2 separate regions of the Homo sapiens genome follow, and region 2 is linked to region 1. Evidence: fine-mapped expression QTL. A gene starts in region 1. The other region holds a variant in brackets. All regions are shown on one strand. Distances are between the middles of the regions.

The links. PIP is the estimated chance that this variant, and not a neighbour inherited with it, causes the effect.
Region 2: its variant is fine-mapped to the expression of CTR9 in testis (GTEx, PIP above 0.99).

Annotation. Positions count from the first base shown.
Region 1 is chr11:10,745,675-10,756,390 of GRCh38, reverse strand. It overlaps CTR9 (CTR9 component of Paf1/RNA polymerase II complex), which reads right to left and starts at 5,145. Exons shown (of 25, transcript NM_014633.5): 1 at 4,934-5,145; 2 at 3,621-3,719; 3 at 1,194-1,433; 4 at 596-713. The coding sequence starts at 4,978. RefSeq lists enhancers at 5,258-5,307, 5,328-5,477, 5,276-5,776.
Region 2 is chr11:10,786,802-10,797,517 of GRCh38, reverse strand. It overlaps EIF4G2 (eukaryotic translation initiation factor 4 gamma 2), which reads left to right. Exons shown (of 22, transcript NM_001418.4): 22 at 1-464. Among named protein-coding and RNA genes, the nearest start is that of SNORD97, 9.4 kb to the left of the region's middle. RefSeq lists a silencer at 4,761-4,900 and enhancers at 4,561-5,110, 5,111-5,660. The variant A/C (reference allele first, on the strand shown) is at 5,452.

The sequences.
Region 1 (10,716 bases):
ATCAGGAAAAATAACTAATAGGTACTAGGCTTAATACCTAAGTGATGAAATAACCTGCACAACAAACCCCCATGACCAAGTTTACCTATGTAACAAACCTGCACTTGTACCACTGAACTTCAATAAAAGTTTAAAAAATGTTATAAAGTAATAATTGAAATAACTTTAAGTTGTCTAAGTAGAGATTGTTTATTGGCTCTTCAGAAGTGTATAACCAATTACTCTTTTTTGAAAAAATTATTTTTTGTAGAGATGGGGTCTTGCTATGTTGCCCCAGCTCGTCTTGAACTCCTGGCCTCAAGTGATCCTCCTGCCTCAGTCTCTCAAAGCGCTGGGATTACAGGTATAACGAGACAGGGTCTCAAAGTGCTGAGATTATACCATGCCTGGCCTAAATAATAAATTATTCTTAACTGGTATATATTTTATTTCTACAATTTCAACAATATTTGTTGTAGGTAATTTCATTTGTAACAACATAAAGCTCTTCTACTTTGCTGTCTAGCTGAGTTATTAAGGAGCTATTACCAAGAGATATATTCTAGGCATATGCTGAAAACAACTGTTTCCTAACATGTTGCCAAAGACCACTTACCAAGAAGGGCTGGAATATTATTTGGAGACTGATTGAGTACAAAATGAAACTGTGCATCAGCTTGATCCATTTTGTCACCCTCAAGTAGGCAGAAGCAGGCTCTTCCCAACAAATGGTTCTATGAAGTAATGTATTATCTTAGATTTTACCCCTATATACCATGAACATGTAACACTAAAGTGAAAACCAAATAGGAAGGAGGTGGAGCACAGTGCAAATTCCCCTATCAAATGTAACGTGCTTAAGCTACTAACAAGCAATTCTTAATTACAAAATAAGAAATTATCCTGAAATGTAAGTCTTCTGTGCCAATAACAACAACCAAAAGAAAAATTTAAATTCCTTAAAATATCCTTGAAATTCACCTGGAGATAATAAAATTACTGGAGCAAGTTTTATGTACTACATTTGTCCATATTACTTAAACAGTACAAAAACCAAAGCATTCCGATTTTAATGAGGAACCTTTCTTCTTTTTGACTCTATCAACCATGTTACTTGAAGAAAAACTCTTTCAAAAAATCTGCTATCACACACATTTTGCTTTCATGTGCTTTTCTCCCTTCATAAATGGAAAGAAATTTGACTTTATTTTTACCTGATCATACATAATAATTTTATCGGCCATTGTATACAACAAGGTGGCCTGTGTAATAAGATCCTTTTTATTGTCCTTATTCTTTTCTTTCCGAGCCTGTTGTACATAATACGCTGCCAATGTATCCAAGCAAGTCATCTGGTCTTTTTCATGGTCTCTATAGTCCAAATTGCCATCTATACGTGCTGCTTCCAACAATTTTACAAACTCTTCTGTTTTTCCTTGCTTGTAGTATTCCAGCTATAAGGTAATGAAACAAATTAGAATCACTAAAGCATATGTCCATATAAAAAGTTGTACACAAATGTTTACAGCAGCTTTATTTGTAATAACAAAAAACTGGAAACAATCAAAATGTTGATTAACAGGTGAATGGATAAACAAGCTGTGGTGTATCCATAAAATGGATACTATCCTACAATGAAAAGGAATGAACTACTGATACATGCTACAACATGGATAAATCTCAAAATAATTATGCTGAATGAAAGAAATCAGACCAAAAAAAGAGTACATATTGTGTGATTCCATTTATATAAAACTCTAGAAAATGTAAAACAATCTCTAGTGTCAAAAAGCAGACCAGTGGTTGTCTGGCACAGGGATTAGGGGTGGGGTGGGGGACTTGTGGGGAGTGGTACAGAGGACACTTTCAGAAGGTGATGAATGTATTCATTAATCTTGATTGTGGTGATGGTTTCACAGGTATATACAGATGATAAAACTTATCAAATGGTAAATGTCAAATATGTGCAGTTTATTATAAATCCATTAGACTTTAATAAAACTGTTTAAAAAACTGGAATCATTCACAATGTTCCCAATCTGCTGCTTATCTAGTTGATTTCTAACTAAAATTTTCAGATAAGTAGAGCCTAAGAGAGAAAACAATAGTGAAAGATATGAAGAATTCTAAATAGAAAACTTGGGTTCTGGTTCTAGATCTACCAAAAATTATCTGTGATTTGGGCCTGTTTAACAACTTCTCTAGGCATCTGTTTGACTTATAAATAATAAAAGAAATATCCACTAGGTGTGGTGGTATGTACCTGTAATCTACTACTTGGGATGCTGTAGTGGCAGGATGGCTTGAGCCCAGGAGTTTGAGTCTAGCCTGGGCAAAATAGAGAGACTCTGTCTCTATGTGGAATATCCACCACTTATTAACCACTGACTATTGGTCACATACCATGAAAGGAATTTCATACACATATTCTCTAATCTGTACAACCACTCTATGAGGTAGATGCTAACATCTCTATATTTTAAATGAGGACATATGCTCAGAAGTTAGATCATTTGTCTAAGGTCACATAGCTAGTTAGCAGCCATGCCGGGACTTGATCTAACCCCAAAGCCTACATTCTTTTCCCTGTAAAAATCTATATCCCACAATGTGTCATTAATTTATTCTACTACAGGTGCCATGCTAATCCTCCAATATTCTAATTTTTGTTTAAGTGCTGTTAAGGAGGGCATATGTACTTAAAAATATATATATATATAATATATATTATATATACATCTAAATTACCATCTGGTTTTAAAAAAAATGTGTGTGACAAGGAGGCTTGGTCTCCATGGAATAAGAAAAGTTGGCACTTCAAGTCAAGAAGGCACTGCTTGTCACTGAAAATACTTCTCTGTAAATCCACATCTAAAAGGAAGAAACTCTTAGAGCAGTCTTGAGCACTGGATATAAGCCCAATTCCAGACCTATTTCTCTGACTCTTCAAGACAATATTAGGAGCCTCTTCTGTATGTTTGTATGAAAGCAATGTGGCATATCTACTTAGGAATAATGACTGTAACATTTATATTACCTATTCCTATAAAAAGAAAACATCATTATGCAGCTGATGCTGGCAAGTAGAGGATATAGAATTTTAGGGTTTCTGATTGGATTTTCTTGAGAATCTCCAGTAAGATTCACATTGAAGGAGACTAAATAGGACAAAAAACATAAGTCTGAGATAAACTTCACCCAAAAGAACTTTTGTGATTTTGGGTGAAGTGATTTTCCCAGAACCTAATCACATTCTAGAATATTTTAAGGGAAGTGTTTTGTTGTTATAGGAAACAATGTTAAGCAGCAATGTTCACACAGAAGCACTTCGCTTCTTTTCAGCTTATCTATAAACCATAAGCCAGCCTTCACTGAACAAGCACTAAATAATAAAATATTCAATATAGAGTACTACTTAAATGAATTTTGCCTTTACCAACATATACTAATTCACCAGTAGAGCAGCATATCATTTAGGAAAACGGCCTTATTGTTCCATAAATTATTAACACAATTAACTTCCATACACATGGTATAACTAATCTACCATGCAGCCAAGCTGGCTATTACTATATCTGAAAACAGAAACTACATATTTTCCTAGTCAACAAATAAAAAATATTTGCTACATGAATACTGACCGCCAAAGCAATCCATATGTGCAGTTGTGTGTGTTCCTGTTTCAGAATACTGATAACTTCATCTCCCTCCGGTAACTGATCGAAGTCAAGTTCAATGACCTAAAATACAAAAGGTAGGTCTTAACTCTTATTCCACTTTAAAATTCACATTTCATCTTTGCTGCTTTTCGTGAATATAATCAACATGCATATACATAGAGTACGTGTTCACTTTCAATACGGTTGAGCTAATCCATGTTAATGTTTAAGGAGCACATGACGAATAGGTTATACTATAATAAAGTTAAAGCACAGAGAAGCAAACAAACCCTGCTACTTGTCCCCAGATCACTGGAACTATAAAATACTAGAAATGGTCTGCTTACTAAAAAATAACAAAACAAAATCCTACTTAACATAGAATCCAAGTAAAGTGCAGATAAGCACCCTAGAGACTATTATGCCATAGGTCTGACTCCTTGAGATGCATGACCCTACAAGCCATGCAAAGTTGAATGCCACTGCACACATTAATCATGGAGGTGGCACCTGCGTGTAACAGACAGTCCTGACTGTAAGCACAAAAATAATAATAGGAAAATGTCCTGGAATTAGAGGTAATGACTATACAACTTTGCGAATACACTAAAAACCACTGAATTTTATACCTCAATATTATATCTCAAACAAAAAAAATAAAAATAAAAGATATACAAGAAGACTGAACATCAAAGCTGAGAGCTTTACTCAGACAAGCCACAGGCCACCCATGAATGAGACATAGGTAAGCGAGAGGAGGTTAAATTTTATCAGCACACAGGGGCGGCTAAATCTTGGGATATCTCGTTGAAGGAGAGTTGGTGTAGAGAACACAGCGCACCATGACAGACTCGAGTTTCTAAGGGAGAAGAGGCGACCTCCTATATATTCCCAGGGAAAGATCTCGAGTTTGAGCAGCAAGCATATAAACCCCGGAAACATCAGCGCCCACCTCTGTAATCTGCGAGGTGTTTTACAGTTTATCGGGTACTCTCACACCTCTGCTCCCGTGGGTTGGTTAGGAAAAGAGTAGCGCACTGTCAAATTCGAACAGGCTGGAGAGGAACTTTCAAGAACTCCTTCTCCGAGTGGCCCTGAGGCTGCAGAGACGCGGTGCCCCCAGCCTGAGAGGGCACAGGGGCTGAAGAAGATGATGATCAGACCTTGGCCAGGTATTTCGATCAGGGCTCTTAGGGAAGGAGGATGCTCTCGCTTCAGAAACGAAGTCGAGCGAAGTCGGTGGGGGCGATCGTACAAGTTCATGGCCCCCACCCGCCTCCATACACGACACTTACCTCGTCAGTGTCCCGGAGGGGAATCTCGATGGAGCCCCGCGACATGATGGGGTCAAAAGGCGAGCAAGTGTCTCGCCCCGCCGCTCCGCAGCCGGTAGTCTCCGCTTCAGGCTAATCCAGAGGTGAGTGACGGCTCCGGCTCTGGTCTTGACTGCCGCCCCGCGGCGCCGCTGGAGCTCTGGCTTCTCCTTCCCGTCAGCCGCTTAAACAACGAGCAGCGGACGGCGGACGGCCACTTCCGGCGACCCCGCCCCCTGTCCCGGAAGCACTCCCGGGGGAGCGTGCCCTACGCGAGCTCAGCTTGTGGCTCCGGTGTTTCCGTTTTGGGGTTGGCGGCTCCGAAGCTTTTGTTGGCGTGTCGGCTGTAGGGTGCCCCGAGAGCCTGCAGGACCTTCGGAACCATCTGGCGTCTGACTCTCCTCAGCGCTGGCGCGGCCCCGAATGAAAACTTGGAAGGCGTAGCCGCTTGGTCCCGCGGTGGGCGGGGCCCCTGCCTGACGTGGACCTCTCGGGATGGGCCTGGCCAATCCTGTTTTCTTCCCAAGATTGTTAGGGATAATTCAGTCATTCGTTTCGCAACCCATCTTTTGGCCCCCGTTAGGTGTAAGTCATACCTGTGATACCTTTGTGACTAGTTTAAATAAAAAAATTTACAATTAATTCGGTAATCATTGTGATAATTCATGTCTTATTTTTTTTAGTTCTTCGAAGCATGTAAGAAGATCTAGTATATTTGTGATTTAAGTAAAATTGCAGATGAGGCCAGGCGCGGTGGCTCACGCCTGTAATCCCAGCACTTTGGGAGGCCAAGGCGGGCGGATCATCTGAGGTCAGGAGTTCGAGACCAGCCTGACCAACATGGTGAAAACCCGTCTATACTAAAAATACAAAAATTAGCCCGGCGCGGTGGTGGGCGCCTGTAATCCCAGCTACCAGGGAGACTGAAACAGGAGACTCGCTTGAACCCGGGAGACGGAGGTTGCGCTGAGCCGAGATCAGCCACTGCGCTCCAGACTGGGGATCGATCGAGACTCCACCTCAAAAAAAAAAAAAAGAGGAAATTAATTTTAGTAATATATTTTATTTAACGTAATATATCCAAAATCTCATTTCAACATGTAGTCAATATAAAAATTCAGATAATTTTTACATTTTTTTATACTGAGTCTTGAAAATTCGATATGTATTTCACATGCATACACTGATCTCAGTTGCCTGATTTTAATTGGAAATATTGGATCTGTGTTTAGATTTTATAAAGTTTGCAGTTGAAAAAATAGGTTCACACACTTTAGTTTTTCCAAAATTTAAATTAAAAAAATTCCTAATTAAATTCCTTAATTGGATTAGTCATATTTCAAGTGTTCAATAGCCACATGTGGTTAGTGAATACTGCATTGGATGGCATCAGACAGTATTTCCCAGAAATACTGTTTAATATATTTTAAAGTTTATAAAGTAAGCATTAAACAAAAGTACACATAGTGGTGATTGTTATTCTCCATGCCCAAAAGCCTCCCTGATATTAAAAACTCTATTGATAGGTTTGGTTTTTCAGTTATTCGCATCCAAAGGCATCATACCTGATAATGCAGAGTGCTATGATTGAATAGTTGGGGCACTCAGTTTAGAGTGGGATTTGGAGGAAGTGACATTTAAGTTGCATCTGGGAAAATGAGTAAGGTTTGGCAGGTAAAGTATGTAGGGGAATGTGTACCAGACAGAGGGGACGGCATGTTGGGGAAGAGCTTTGAGAACCTGCAAGAAGGTCATGTGACTAGAATGTAGAAAATGAGGGGGAGAGTGGCATGAGTTGAAGCTGATATAAGAAGTACCCAGACATGCTGGGGTTTATGCTTATAAAGCAAAACTGACATCTTGTCCTGTTTCCAAAATGAGTGAGTGTACATATTACTTCCCACAGGAAAAACAAAATACTTTGTGTTCTGAAATAAACCGTGAAACAACAGTATCACACTCTGTAGTCTCCAAAGTGAACAAAACTTTCAGCATTTCCCATATATTACTGACTCTCTTACAGTTTAATTGCTGACTTTTGTACTGCTACAGTCTGAAGATATGTGGGAGCTTGGGGTCATATGGCAATCATATGAGAAAATTGCTCTTTTCTCACCATGAAGCAACTAACTGTAAACCTTGGTGTGTGTTCATTTGATGTATCAGTCCTTCTAAAGCGTAAATTCACCTGTATACTTTTGCAAGTGTTTTTGTAAGTAAACTTTTTTTCTAAATGCTTTTGTCCTTCAGAATTTCTTTTGACTTAGTATATATTAATGATTTGGGGTTTTATCTTACATGCAAAGTGATTGAAATGCTTTAAGTGATGTGTATGTGTCAATGAGAGGGAGAAAGAATAAAAGAGAATTGGTTTTGGCCAGGCACGGTGGCTCATGCCTGTAATCCCAGTACTTTGGGTGGCCGAGGTGGCCTATCACATGAGTTTAAGAATTCAAGACCAGTCTGGGCAACATGGTGAAATTTGTCTCTACTAAAGATACAAAAATTAGCTGGGTGTGGTGGTGCACGCCTGTTATCCCAGCTACTCAGGAGGCTGAGGCATGAGAATCACTTGAGCCCCAGAGGCGGAGGTGAAGGTTGCAGTGAGCCAAGATCATGCCGGTGCACTCCAGCCTGGGCGACAGAGTGAGACTCTGTCTGAAAAAAAAAAAAAAGAATTGGTTTTAAAAGATTGTTCTGGCTATGTTGTGAAAGATGGATTGGAAAGTGTCTCGAGAGGATGTGGGCAGACCACTTAGGAAACTGCTGTCTAGGTCACAGATGATAAATAGGAATAGGTTTAAGACAGTGGAGGTGGAGAGAAGTGGATGGATTTAAGATTATCATCTATCTATCTGTCTATCAATCATCTGTTGATACCTTAGTCACTAGGACTTGCCAATGTATTGGATATAGGCCGGGGTCACTGAAAAAGTAGTGTCAAGAAGGACGTCCAGTTTCTGGCATGAACAACTGGGTGAATGATGTGTCATTTCCTAAAATAGGAAAGATTAGTGGAGGAGCACATTTGGGCAAGGGTAGACCACTAGTTGGATTTCACATGTGTTGTTTGTAGTTTGTACTGTCTCTGCGACAGCCAGATGCAGATTTCAGATAGTCTAAATTACAGATCTGTAATTTAGAAGACAGTTTCTAACCTGGAGAAATAGGTCTGAGAGCTATTGGCATAAAGATGAATTTTAAAACTATGGGATTAAATTAGATTAGATAACCTAGGGAGAGAATGGAGAGTGACAAGAGAAGGGCCTAGTTCCCAGCCTGAGGAATTCTAGCACACAGAGGGTGTGAAGAGGAAGGTGGCCTGCAAGGAATCAGCAAGGACAATGAAGAGAGAATCACCTATCAGGGGCCTGGCAACAATTGAGACTTAAACTACACTCTTGGTACCAGGTTGCTACAAGCAGCCTTTTGTTTTTCCCTAAATGTAGCAGGCACTGATGAAATTAGATGTTTTAAAGCTGTAGAACCAGTTTTGGAGCAATTTCAAAGATTTTATTTCAACTGGCATGATTGCATAATGTCCATTCACAAAACACCATGCCCCATGTTGGGCCTGAGTGCACCAGATCAAGGCAAAGCAGTTAGTGTATTTGGCCAGTGTGGGTTTTGTTGAGTACATGTTCTAAATAGATTGTTAAGATTCTTACTTTTATGTTGTTGGTATTGCAGTTGTCTGTAATGTTGGTAAATATATACATTTAGCCAATCTGAAGAGTAAGTTATTTTATATGTTGATAAAATATGCTAATAATTAATTTATTATTTTTGAGGCAGGGTCTCACTCTGTCATGCAGGATGGAGTACGGTGGCACCATCACAGCTCATTGCAGCCTCAAACTCCTGGGCTCAAGCAATTTCCTGCTTCAGCCTCCCAAGCAGCTGGGATTATAAGCAGACACTACCACATCTGGCGAAATATGCTAATTATTAAAAAGGAGTGAAGAAAGTTGATCTTAACAAATTAAATATACATATAATTTGTTATATATAATTATGTGTGTATATATTATATATATATTATATATAATATAAATATTATATTTTATATATAATATAAATATATTTTATATAATATATATTATATATAATATATAATATATATTATATAAATATATAAATATATTATATATAATATATAAAATATTATATATAATTATATAAATATATAATATATATTATATATAATTATATAAATATATAATATACTATATAAATATATAATTATATAAATATAATTAATTATATAAATATATAATATATTATATATATATATATTTTTTTTAGACAGGGTCTCACTCTGTCACCCAGGCTGGAGGGCAGTGATGTGGTCATGACTCATTGCAGGCTTGACCTCCCTGGGCTCAGGTGATCCTCCAGCCTCTGCCTCCCAAAGTGCTGGAATTACAGGCATGAGCCACCACGCTCAACCTAAATAATATTTTAGATCTTAAGTTAGATATCTTTTAAATAGCAGGACACAAATTGAAGTGTTTTAAGTGTTTTAAGTAGTTTGTATAAATTATTAAGAAACAATACGAAGCTATGTTAGTTTGCTGGGGCTAGGGCTCCCATAACAAAGTACACAGACTGGATGACTTAAACAATAGAAATGTATTTTCTGACAATTCTGTAGGCTGGAAGTGAGAGTCCAAGGCATTGGCAGGTTTGGTTTCTCCTGAGGCCTCTTTCCCTGGCTCGTATATGGCCGTCTTCTCTCTGTGGCTTCCCATGTTCTTCACTCTCTCTGAGTTTAAATCCTAATCTCCTCTTCCTATAAAAACTTCAGTCATTGAATTAGGGCTCACCCTAATGACTTTATTTTAATTTAATGACCTCTCTAAAGATCCTGTCTCTAAATATAGTCACATTCTGAGGTACTGGGAGTTAGGACTTCCATAAATGAATTTTGAGGGGAACACAGTACGGCCTGTAGCAGAGGCCTATCAGCAGGACACATCTCTGCAGCTGAATTATTTTTATTATTTTCCTTTTTAAAAAAAGTTCAATAGTTTTGGGGGAACAGGTGTTTTTTGTTATGTGGATAAATTTTTTAGTGTTGATTCTGGAGATTTTGGTGCAACTGTCACCCAAGCAGTGTACACTGTACCCAATGTGTAGTCTTTTGTCTCTCACCCCTCCACCCTACTCCCACCCCCGAGTCCCCAAAGCCCATCATATCATTCTTAGGCCTTTGTGTCCTCATAGCTTAGCTCCCACTTATAAGTGAGAACATATGACGTTTGGTTTTCCATTCCTGAGTTACTTCACTTAGAATAATGGTCTCTAACTCCATCCAGGTTGCTGTGAATGCCATTATTTCATTCCTTTTTATGGCTGAGTATCCCCTGTTGTTGCAGCTGAATTTTTAAATTATACTTTTCCCCATTAATTATTAAAATAAGGCTTGTTTATGAAATATTAGGATAAATCATCATTAGGCAAAAGTTTTAGGGTTATAATTTATCATTACAGTTGCCTGGGCAGTTGTCTTAGAATACTCTGTGTCATAGTTTCCTCTGGGGTTTCAATAAATATTCATCTCCAAAACATCACTATAGTTTCAGGAATTTAAAATTACATAAAATGCTCCTTTAGGTAAGAACTGGGAATAAAGGTCAACACACCTAATTTGACTGTCAGTAAAACACTCTGATAGAAATCTTAGTTCTGGCAGATTTGAATAACCAGAAAACCCTCCTGCTAAAAACACCTAGATTTGCAGGTCTGAAAACACACACACACAC
Region 2 (10,716 bases), 41 kb before region 1:
GCCAGTTATCATAGGCTGTTTTAAGTTAGAAAACTGAATAGCAACACTGAATACTGTAGAAATGCACTTTGCTCAGTAATACTTGAGTTGTTGCAATATTTGATTATCCATTTGGTTGTTACAGAAAAATTCTTAACTGTAATTGATGGTTGTTGCCGTAATAGTATATTGCCTGTATTTCTACCTCTAGTAATGGGCTTTATGTGCTAGATTTTAATATCCTTGAGCCTGGGCAAGTGCACAAGTCTTTTTAAAAGAAACATGGTTTACTTGCACAAAACTGATCAGTTTTGAGAGATCGTTAATGCCCTTGAAGTGGTTTTTGTGGGTGTGAAACAAATGGTGAGAATTTGAATTGGTCCCTCCTATTATAGTATTGAAATTAAGTCTACTTAATTTATCAAGTCATGTTCATGCCCTGATTTTATATACTTGTATCTATCAATAAACATTGTGATACTTGATGTAGTGATGTGTGGCTGTAAATGGCATCCATAGTCTGGGAGAATTGTCAGCTTTGTTTTTGAGGTATAGGAGACCCACCTTAGTTTGACTTAAGGACTTCCCAATTTTTGTTTTTCTGCTGTACAAGCCTGGGTTCCAGAAGGAATTTTTAGACTCTTCAAGATGAGACACAAGATTTAAGGTGTTTATTTCCTTTGAGTTACTGAAACTAACCAATATAAACGATTTTTATGATCAAAGATCACAAGTCTTATGAATTTGGAGGAACATAGCTACACATAGCAACTAAAATTTGGTGACAATTTATCTTTTGTCAGACTGAAATACATGGTGATCTCTGGATAAGCTTAGCTGTCCTGCAAGCATCATTCCCAGTAGCTGCCCCAAATGTCCAGGAAGATCCCTGCTTCCTCTGGAAAAATTCCAGTGTCCCAGTAAAATTGACTTCATTCAACTAAACCTCTGCATGTTTTCCAAAAACACACACGAAGGATTTGTCTCCAGCCCTGGAACATTCTGACAATCCTAGGATTACTTCTAACATTGGCATGGATGGGGACTCTTGAAGTGTGCTACTGGAGTCCTGGTTGATGTCAACACCTAAGAACCTGTTCTTGGTGATTGGGGAGACCCTCAAGGCAGACTATCATACTGCCGAACCCATTAGAACCTTGAAGTCAGAAGAGGCTGCCTGCACATGCTCCAGTGGGTGGGAGGCAGAACCAATCAATGTTTTTGTGTCTGTCTTATTTGGGCCAGGGAAGCTAAATCTTGCATTATGGCACTCATCTTCCCCTGAAGTTTTAACAAGTCATAAGCTTTTGGGTACTTTGAGTACAGCAAAATTTAAAGCTAAACAGATTTGTATGAACCTACCTAAATTTTAAAGGGGCTGTAAATTGTTTCTCTGCCCAACCCTCCCCACGAAGGGGAGGAAACTAATTTTTAACCTAGCAAAAGGAGCAACTGGTTAGGTGGATCAGCTAGTCAATTCTTATTGCCAGAATTTGCCTAATTCAGCCAGGGTATCAGGCTAAAGGAAGTTTTAGAACTAAACCTGGGCCTGGGTGCAGTGGCTCACGCCTGTAATCCCAGCACTTTGGGAGGCCTAAGGCGGGCGGATCACCTGAGGTCGGAGTTCAAGACCAGGCTGACCAACATGGAGAAACCCTATTTTCTTCTAGAAAAATACAAAGCTGAGTGTGGTGGTGCATGTCTACAATCCCAGTGACTCGGGAGGCTGAGGCAGGAGAATGGCTTGAACCTGGGAGGCGGAGGTTGCAGTGAGCCGAGATGGCACCATTGCACTCCAGCCTAGGCAACAAGAGCGAAACTCCGTCTCAATAAAAAATGAACTAAACCCGGTACGCAGTGGTTTGTCATTGCTTACAGAATCATGCTTTAATCTTCCCACCCCAAACATGTCAAGAGCTACTCAAAATATTCAACCCATAGAGAATGTATAATACTGCTGCTACCTTGTTCTAAAGACACCTAACAGTGTACTTTATAATCTACCATACTGTGGAATGGCAGTATCTGGGTATAACTGGGATGTACCTTGCATGATTGCCAATTTCTTTAGTATCAGCATGTAGTGACTAATCTTCATTCACTTCATGGTGACTTCAAAATAAGATTGCATGTCTTTACTGCCCCCAATTTTTTTTTCCTTTACTGCAAAATTGAAAGAGTTGTCTAATTTTCCCCATTCTGAAGCCTCAGTAGGGCTTCACTCCCCTGGTTCCCCACACCAAAACTTTCTTAGGGTCACCAGTAACTCCAATGCTATATCCAGTAGGTTTTGATCCTCCTGTAGGCAGCATTTGACAAGTTACTCATTCCTTGAAAGTGTTAACTTGTTCCCAGGACATCTTTTTCTTCTCAGTTTCCAATGGGAGATGCCTGATCTCAACACTTTTTCAGTTGTTGTCATACTCTGCATCCATTCTAGCATCAAATCATGTTGATTGCATTCCAAACATTTTAGAAATTGAAGAACTCATTTCTTCAACCACCACCCTCATTTCTTACCTAGGTACCACAGTAGCCTTAACTGGCCTCCCTGCCTAGCCCTCATCTCCATTTTGTCGTCTCAACACAGCACCACTTGGCTCAAAACCCGCCAAATGGCTTCCCACCTAGTGGGATTTTTATGTCAAAATACTTAATTTGGTCTACATCACCCCACATCTGATTTTCTTAGCCCTCTCCCCATCCTTGCCCCACAACCTGTTTCTCTGATCTAATTTCCTACTGCTGGCACTTAATCCTTCTGCTCCCACCACACTGGATTTGCTGCTCCTGGGACATGCCAAGCATCTTCTTACTTTGGAGGTTTTATGTTCCTCCTTTCTTCTGGATAACTGGATGACTGGCTTTCTCCCCCTCCTCAGGTCTTGGCTCAAATGTCACTTTTTTTTTTTTTTTTTTTTTTTTTTTTGAGACGGAGTCTCGCTTTGTTGCCCAGGCTAGAGTGCAGTGGCGCGATCTTGGCTCACTGCAAGCTCCACCTACTGGGTTCACGCCATTCTCCTGCCTCAGCCTCCTGAGTAGCTGGGACTACAGGCGCCCGCCACCATGCCCGGCTAACTTTTTGTATTTTTAGTAGACACGGGGTTTCACCGTGTTAGCCAGGATGGTCTCGATCTCCTGACCTCGTGATCCGCCCTCCTCGGCCTCCCAAAGTGCTGGAATTACAGGCGTGAGCTACCGCGCCCAGCTTCAAATGTCACTTTTATTAGTAAAGTCCTCATTGTCAATTCTGATAACCTCCTGCAGATCTTAAGGGGCAGGAAAGAAATTCATATATATATTTAAAAACTCTAAACACATCCTCATCCCTCTTTCCTTTTTGTATCTCCATGTCTCATTACATGACATACTGCATGGTTATATCTGATTCCTGCTAGAATGTGAAGAGCATGAAGTATTTGACAGTTTTTTTCACTGCTGTATTCCCAGCATCTAGAACAGTGCCCAGTGCCCGGTAAACTCAAATATTTGTTCAACCAAATCATGAATTAATAAAATTACCCTACATGGCAGGATGTGGACATAGAGGAAGGAAGTAGTGGGAAGACCTCAGACTCGAGTTGTAGATCGATCTAGGGTTAATCTCTAACACAAGCAGGGTGATCTTAGGTAAGATATTTTTTATCTGAGTCTTGATTATTTTAGAAATTATTTTAGAAAATTTAGCTTGGGCAACGTGGGGAAACCCTGTGTCTACAAAAAAAAAAAAAAAAAAGTAGAAAAATTTGCTGAGTGTGATGATGCACACCTGTAGTCTCAGCTACTCAGGAGGCTGAGGTGGGAGGATCACCTGAGCCGAGGAGGTCGAGGCTGCAGTGAGCCATGATCACGTCACTGCACTCCAGCCTGGGCAACAGAGTGAGACCCTGTCTCGAATGAATGAATGAAAATGTGGCTAACGTGCAGCTGTAGTTCCAGCTACTCTGAAGGCTGAGGTGGGAGGATTGCTTGAGCCCAAGAGTTTGAGGCTGCAGTGAACTATGATCGTGCCACTGCACTCCGGCCTGGGAGACAGAGCAAGACCCTGTCTCAAAAATTTAAAAAAAAAAAAAAAAAGAAAGAAAGAAAACAGGGTTAATACTTAAGGATTGTCATGAGAGCTAAACAAGCTAATATGTAAAAGTCACTAGGGAAAGCATCCCACATAGCAGCCCAATAGATATGAATGTCACCCTCCTTTCTAAGATTCCTCCCCAGGAGAACTGCTTCCATCTTCTGAACTAACAAGATCATTGGCTAGATATAACTAAAGGGTATAGCTCAGTCTTATTTGATCAATCAAAAGCACTTGCCAGTTGACTTTCCTCTTTCCCACTTTGTTTTTCTCCCAGCTTCTCCTCAGTCTCCTTTAAAAGCCCTCTTTTTTCACCTGGCCCCTGAATGTTGCTGTTTTGCCTCCCTCCTTCAACACTGTCACTCACTTCTGTGGATCCGATTACCAGCTATCTGCTGATGACATCTGTATCTTGAGTCCAAACCCCTTTCCAGAATGTCTAACTCGCACATCCAACCAGCCCCTGGACATATTTCTGAATGTGCCACAGCACTTCAAACTCAATATTCATCCCTAAACTTTTTGCCGCAAACCAACACTCCCTCCCTTTCTAACTCTGCAACCATAGCCTCATGCAAACCAAAAACGAATCACTTTCTCACTAGACAATTTTCCAAGCAAAGTCCTACAAGAATATGCAAGAGCCCTGGACGAGGAGACACCTGAGCACAGGGCAGAGAGTAGCGGACACAGGACATTCAAGTCCCACAGCCTGCCCTGCCCCGCCCCGCAGCCCTGCCCTTGCCCGTCCTGACCCAGGGGGAGCGCAGGAGGCTGAGCTGGACCCAGGTCCCCGACCGATCAGCAACGCTGTCCCACAGCGCCCTCTGCCGGGATGCTGGGAGACCACCCCTGGCAGGTGGGTCGGGTTGCAAGGCTCTGGCCCTTGTCCTGTACGGCCCACGCGGAGGCAAGACCGAGACCCACTGGTCACGCTCATGGAGAGGGGGAAGTGAGAATGTTGCCCTGGGCTTGGTCTCCTGTCAACGGTGCATGACACGACGATGTGACTGGTAAATGAGCAGTGACTCCTCAAGAGCTGCTCAGGTCAGCTGCACAGCATGCCGAGCCACAGAGCAGAGCGCAGGCCCCAGCTTCCCGGGTCATCAGTCTCGGAGCCTAGGCCAATCGCTGCACCTCCCCAGGCTCTATCTGACTTACCTGTGAAATTATCCTTGGTCTGCCCAGCTCTCCAGTGCGTTTCGAGGGGCCGCATCGCTAGGTATGGAACATCAGTGATGGACAGCTGTGGAACTGTTCTACAAGTCCATGCGTCTCGCAAACATGTACTGAGTACATATTTGCCAGGGGCTACTCCAGGGCCAGAGATGTAACAGTAATGAGACAGTCTTCTTCTGGAAGCAACGTTCTGGGTGATAGCAGAGAGACAGTAAATC[A/C]ACAAACGTACAGTGCCAGGCAGTAAAAAGTGCTGTATGCAGGGATGCGAGTAAGGGCTAGGGAGTGGAGTGAGTGCTGCTTGAAAGAGGGGGTTCTGGGATGGCCTCAGGAGGAGGTGGCCTTTGAGCAAAGATCTAAGAGATGCCAGGGGGTGAACTCCACAGCCATCTGGAGGAACAGCATTCCTGGCAGAGGGGAGGCCAAGCTGGAGGCCCTGAGATTGGGAACGCACCTGGCCTGTCTGAGGAACAATCTGGCCAAGCAGAGGGCAAGGGGGTTTGAGGCTGAGGAGAAGGGCGCCGGCCAGTGCAGAGAACTAGTCAGACCCAGTAAGGACTTTGGCTTTTATGCTGAGTGAGATGGGCTGCCTTTGGAGGATTGCTTTTTATCATTTGTTAATATCAATCCCTCATTAAGACCAGTGCAGTGCCTGCACTGCATCCTGAGCTCTGCTAGGACATATTATGATTATTGTAGCTAATGTTTGCCGAGGAGTTAGCATATGCCAGGCTGGACCAAATGCATCAAGGTAGTCATCCCTTGTAATCATCCCAACATCCTTGAGGCAGGTGCTTCACTATCCCCCTTCACTATCCCCATGTCTGAGCCCCAAACTGAGGCTCAGAGAAGCAAAGCACCTGCCCAAGATCTTTCATGTATTTGGCAAGTAGCTATGAACGCCTTTTCTGCATTGTATTAGGCTGTTTTCACACTGCTATAAAGAAATACCTGAGACTTGGTAATTTATTAAAAAAAAAAAAGAGGTTTAATTGACTTACAGTTCCACATGTTTGGGGAGAATTCAGGAAACTTGCAATCACGGGAGAAAGTGAAGGGCAAGTAGGCGCCTTCCTCACAAGGCAACGAGAGAGAGAGTGTGAAGGAGGAACTGTCAAGCACTTATAAAACCATCAGATCTCCTTGTGAGAACTCCCTCACTATCATGAGAACAGCATGGGGGAGACCGCCCCCAAGATCGAATCACCTCCCACCAGGTCCCTCCCTTGACACATGGGGATTATGGGGATTACAATTTGAGATGACATGAGATTTGGGTGAGGACACAGAGCCACATCATATCATGCATGCTCTTTTGAAGTACTGGGCCACACATCTATTAAGTCATGGGGTGGTGATTCAAGCCCTACACTGTAACTCAGGAGCCGGTGCTCATACCAGATACACCAAAATGCATGTTGGGGTAGGGGACAGAAACTGAAGAGAGAAAGTAAAGGACCCTTTGCAGAGGCAATGAGCTCCTCATGCTTGGAAGTGTAACCAGGGCGGAATGAGTGTAGGGAGGGGCAGGTGCTTCTGAGGGTTGGGGTGTAGGACCGGAGGTGAGGAAGAATCAGCCCCCTAATCCTTCTGTCATGGGTTGAATTATGTCCCCAGCCCCCAAAGATATATGCTGATGTCCTAACTCCAGGTACCAGTGAATGTGATCTTCCTATTTGGAAATAGGGTCTTTGCAGATGTAAGCAAGTCATTAGAGGAGGCCCTAATCTGATATAATGGTGTCCTTATAATAAGAGAAGTGGCACACAGACATGCAGGGTGAGTGCCATTTGATGACAGGGGCAGAGATTGGAGTGACGTCTCTACAAGCCAAGGACTGCGAAGGTTTGCCAGCAATGCTAGCAGCTAGGAGAGAGACATGGACAGATTATCTCTAGAGCCTTCCCATGCCCTGCTGACACCTTGATTTTGGACTTCTAGTCTCCAGAACAATGAGAGAATATGTTTTTGTTGTTCAAGACACCCTGTTTGTGCTACTTCATTACGGTAGTCCTAGAAACTAATACATTGCCCCCAACCCCAGTACCATCACTTCCATCCAGGGCCACCGTGCCCTCTAGCTCTGTCCCTTCCTCTCTCCTCCCCTGAACCCACCAGCTGCTTCACAACTCAGCTAGGTACAGAAAGGTGAGGGAAGAGCTTGGACGAACCAGTAAATAAAATGAGTGAATGAATGAGCAGTGGAGCTCTATTTTGTTCTGAGAAAAATTCTTTGAAGAAAATTAGTAATCTACTTTAGTACTAAAAAATTAGAAAATAAGCCAAAAGAAAAGATATAAAGCTAAGCCTATTAAAATTTTTCATAATTTGGGGTGAGGTGACTTTTCTTTTCTTTGCTTTGCTTCTTTTTTTTTTTTTTTTTTTTTTTTTTTTTTTTAGAGTCTCCCTCTTTCTTCTAGGCTGGAGTGCAATGGCATGATCTCGGCTCACTGCAACCTCCACCTCCCGGGTTCAAGCAATTCTCCCTGCCTCAGCCTCCCGAGTAGCTGGGATTACAGGCGCCTGCCACAACGCCCGGCCAATTTTTGTATTTTTTAGTAGAGACAGGGTTTTGCCATGTTGGTCAGGCTGGTCTTGAACTCCTGACCTCAGGTGATCTGCCCGCCTCAGCCTCCCAAAGTGCTGGGATTACAGGCGTGAGTCACCGTGCCCGGCCTAGGGTGACGTGACTTTTCTAAGCACGTTACTCGGGAAAGTTCCAGATTCTGTAGGGCCTGAAGTTTACATAATTTGGCAGGGGTGGTGGAGGTCTCTTTAGGAAAAAGAAAACAAAATCACAAATGAAAAATTAGGTGCAGCCTTGGAAGAGGCCCAGGCAAGTGAGGGACCCTGATGCCTAAGCTTTAACTTCATGGAACATCTATCTCTTTGTGAAAAAAATATACATATCCAGAAACGATGAAGGGAAATGTTGACAGATTTGCCTATTAATCTGTCCCAAAATGTTATAAAGGATAAATTAAAATATTTGCATGTGCACAATCAAGGGTTAACCACAAAAAGCTCTTTAAAAAATCAGTGGGAAAAAAAGACTAACCTTTTTGAACTCTGACTATATTATTCTCAGAATAGTCCTGGGATGTAGACATTGTTATCCCAATTTAAACAGTAGGAAATTGAAGCTGAGGGGGATGGAGCCATTGTTCAAAGTCACATCATTTGTCAGAGGAAGAGCTAGGATTTAGAGTTCGAATAACTCTAAAGTCCGCATGTTTTCTATTACACGGCAGTCAAAATTGGAGCTGATTTCCAAAGATGGGGAAAATAAAACAAAATGTGGCAAACTATAAATACCTGCAGGTTTTGTTTTGTTTTGCTTTTGTTTTGTTTGAAGACAGGGTCTCATTCTGTCGCTCAGGCTGGAGAGCAGTGGCACAATCTCAGCTTACTGAAGCCTCAACCTCTTGGGGTCAAATGATTCTCCTACCTCAGCCTCTCAAGTTGCTGGGACTACAGGTGGGCCACCATGCCCGGCTAATTTTTTGTAGAGACAGGGTTTCACCATGTTGCCTAGGGTGGTCTGGAACTCCTGGGCTCAAGTGATCCACCTCCCTCAGATTCCCAAAGTGCTGGGATTAGAGGCGTGTTTCACTGTGCCTAGCCAATACCTGCAGTTTTTATCCTCTTGAAAAAAAGCCTGACATTTTCGCTCTAACAATTTTTTCTTCTTCTTTTTTTTTTTTGTAGAGAAACATCTTCACTATGTTGAGTCTTCCAGTCCATGAACATGATATATCTCTTAATTTAAGACTTTCTTTTTTTTTTTTTTTTTTGAGACAGGGTCTCACTTTGTCACCCAGGCTGTAGTGCAGTGGTGCCATCTCAGCTCACCGCAACCTCTGCTTCCCAGGCTCAAGTGATCCTCCTGCCTCAGCCCCCAAGTAGCTGGGACTACAGGCACACGCCACCACATCTGGCTAACTTTTTGTATTCTTTGTAGAGATGGGATTTCGCCATGTTACCCAGGCTGGTCTTGAACTCCTGAGCTCAAGCGATCCTCCCACCTCGACCTCCCAAAATGCTGGGATTACAGGTGTGAGCCACTGTGCCCAGCCTGAGTCTTCTTTGATATTGTTTTCATCATTGTGTAATTTTTAGAATACATATCTTATACATGTGTTGTTAGTTTTGTTTATGTTTTTTACTTTTATTACTTTTAATTGACACACGATAATTGCCTGACAATTTCCAATTACATGAGGCCCTGTCAATTACATTTGTTTGGACAATAATCTACAGTTTGGGGATGACACATTAACCTGAAGTGATCCCAATCAATAGCTAGTTTTTGATGTTTATGGAGGCCTTCGAGAGGCTTGGTGTCAAAGAAATTGAATACAGACTTAATTGTTATTCCTGGGGACACGGTTGTAAAATCTCAAGAGTTTGCAAAAGTTATAAACAAGCATTTTAAAGATTGCTTTAAAAAGTGGTACATTAGCCTGGGCACAGTGGCTCAAGCCTGAAATCTCACTGCTTTGGGAGGCTGAGGCAGGAGATCACTTGAAGCCAGGGGTTTGAGACCAGCCTGGGCAACACGGTGAGACCCTGTCTCTCCAAAAATTTTAAAAATTAGCCAGGCACAATGCTGTATTCCTGTAGTCCTAGCTGGTAGGGAGGGGAGGCAGGAGGATTGCTTGAGCCCAGGAGGTCGAAGCTGCAGTAAGCAATGATCTGACTATTGCACCCCAGCCTGGCTGACAGAGCGAGAACCTCTCTCACACAAAAAAGAAAGAGCAGTACATCAAATGAAGATGGGAAAAGCCACCTACGGGACAAATGGGAAGGCCAGTTGTTGTTCTAATGCGATGCAGAGGAGTGCTGGCAGCTCAGGACAACACATTCAGCCACAGGGCCATGGACTCTCAAGCCTGGACCTCAAACAACACGATGGGTGGGAAGGCAACGTTCTCCTGAAAACTGTTAGATGATTCCGAAAGTGGCTCAAGTACAATGGACAAAGATTCTGTGATAAATTTGAGTGAAATTATTGTATGGAATATGAATGGAGGAAAGCACTTGTTCTCAACATTTTATGAATGTGTGATTTAAACACATTTTAAATTTAATAAGTATTATTAGTAGACATTGAACTATTTCATCTACATCCCCAAAGTTTGTAAGTTTAAGTTAGTGAAAAATCTTTTGGGCAGACAGAGAACCTTTACAGTGGGCATGGGGTCACGTTATATTCAGGACACCTTATACTCAGGCATCTATGATATTTGAAGCTCAAGACACAGCTATTGGCCAGGCGTGGTGGCTCACACCTGTAATCCCAGCACTTTGGGAGGCCGAGGCAGGTGGATCACCTGAGGTCAGGAGTCTGAGACTAGCCTGGCCAACATGGTGAAATCCCGTTTCTACTAAAAATACAAAAAATTAGCTGGGCATTGTGGCGTGTGCCTGTAATCCCAGCTACTCAGGAGGCTGAGGCAGGAGGATCGCTTGAACCCAGGAGGCAG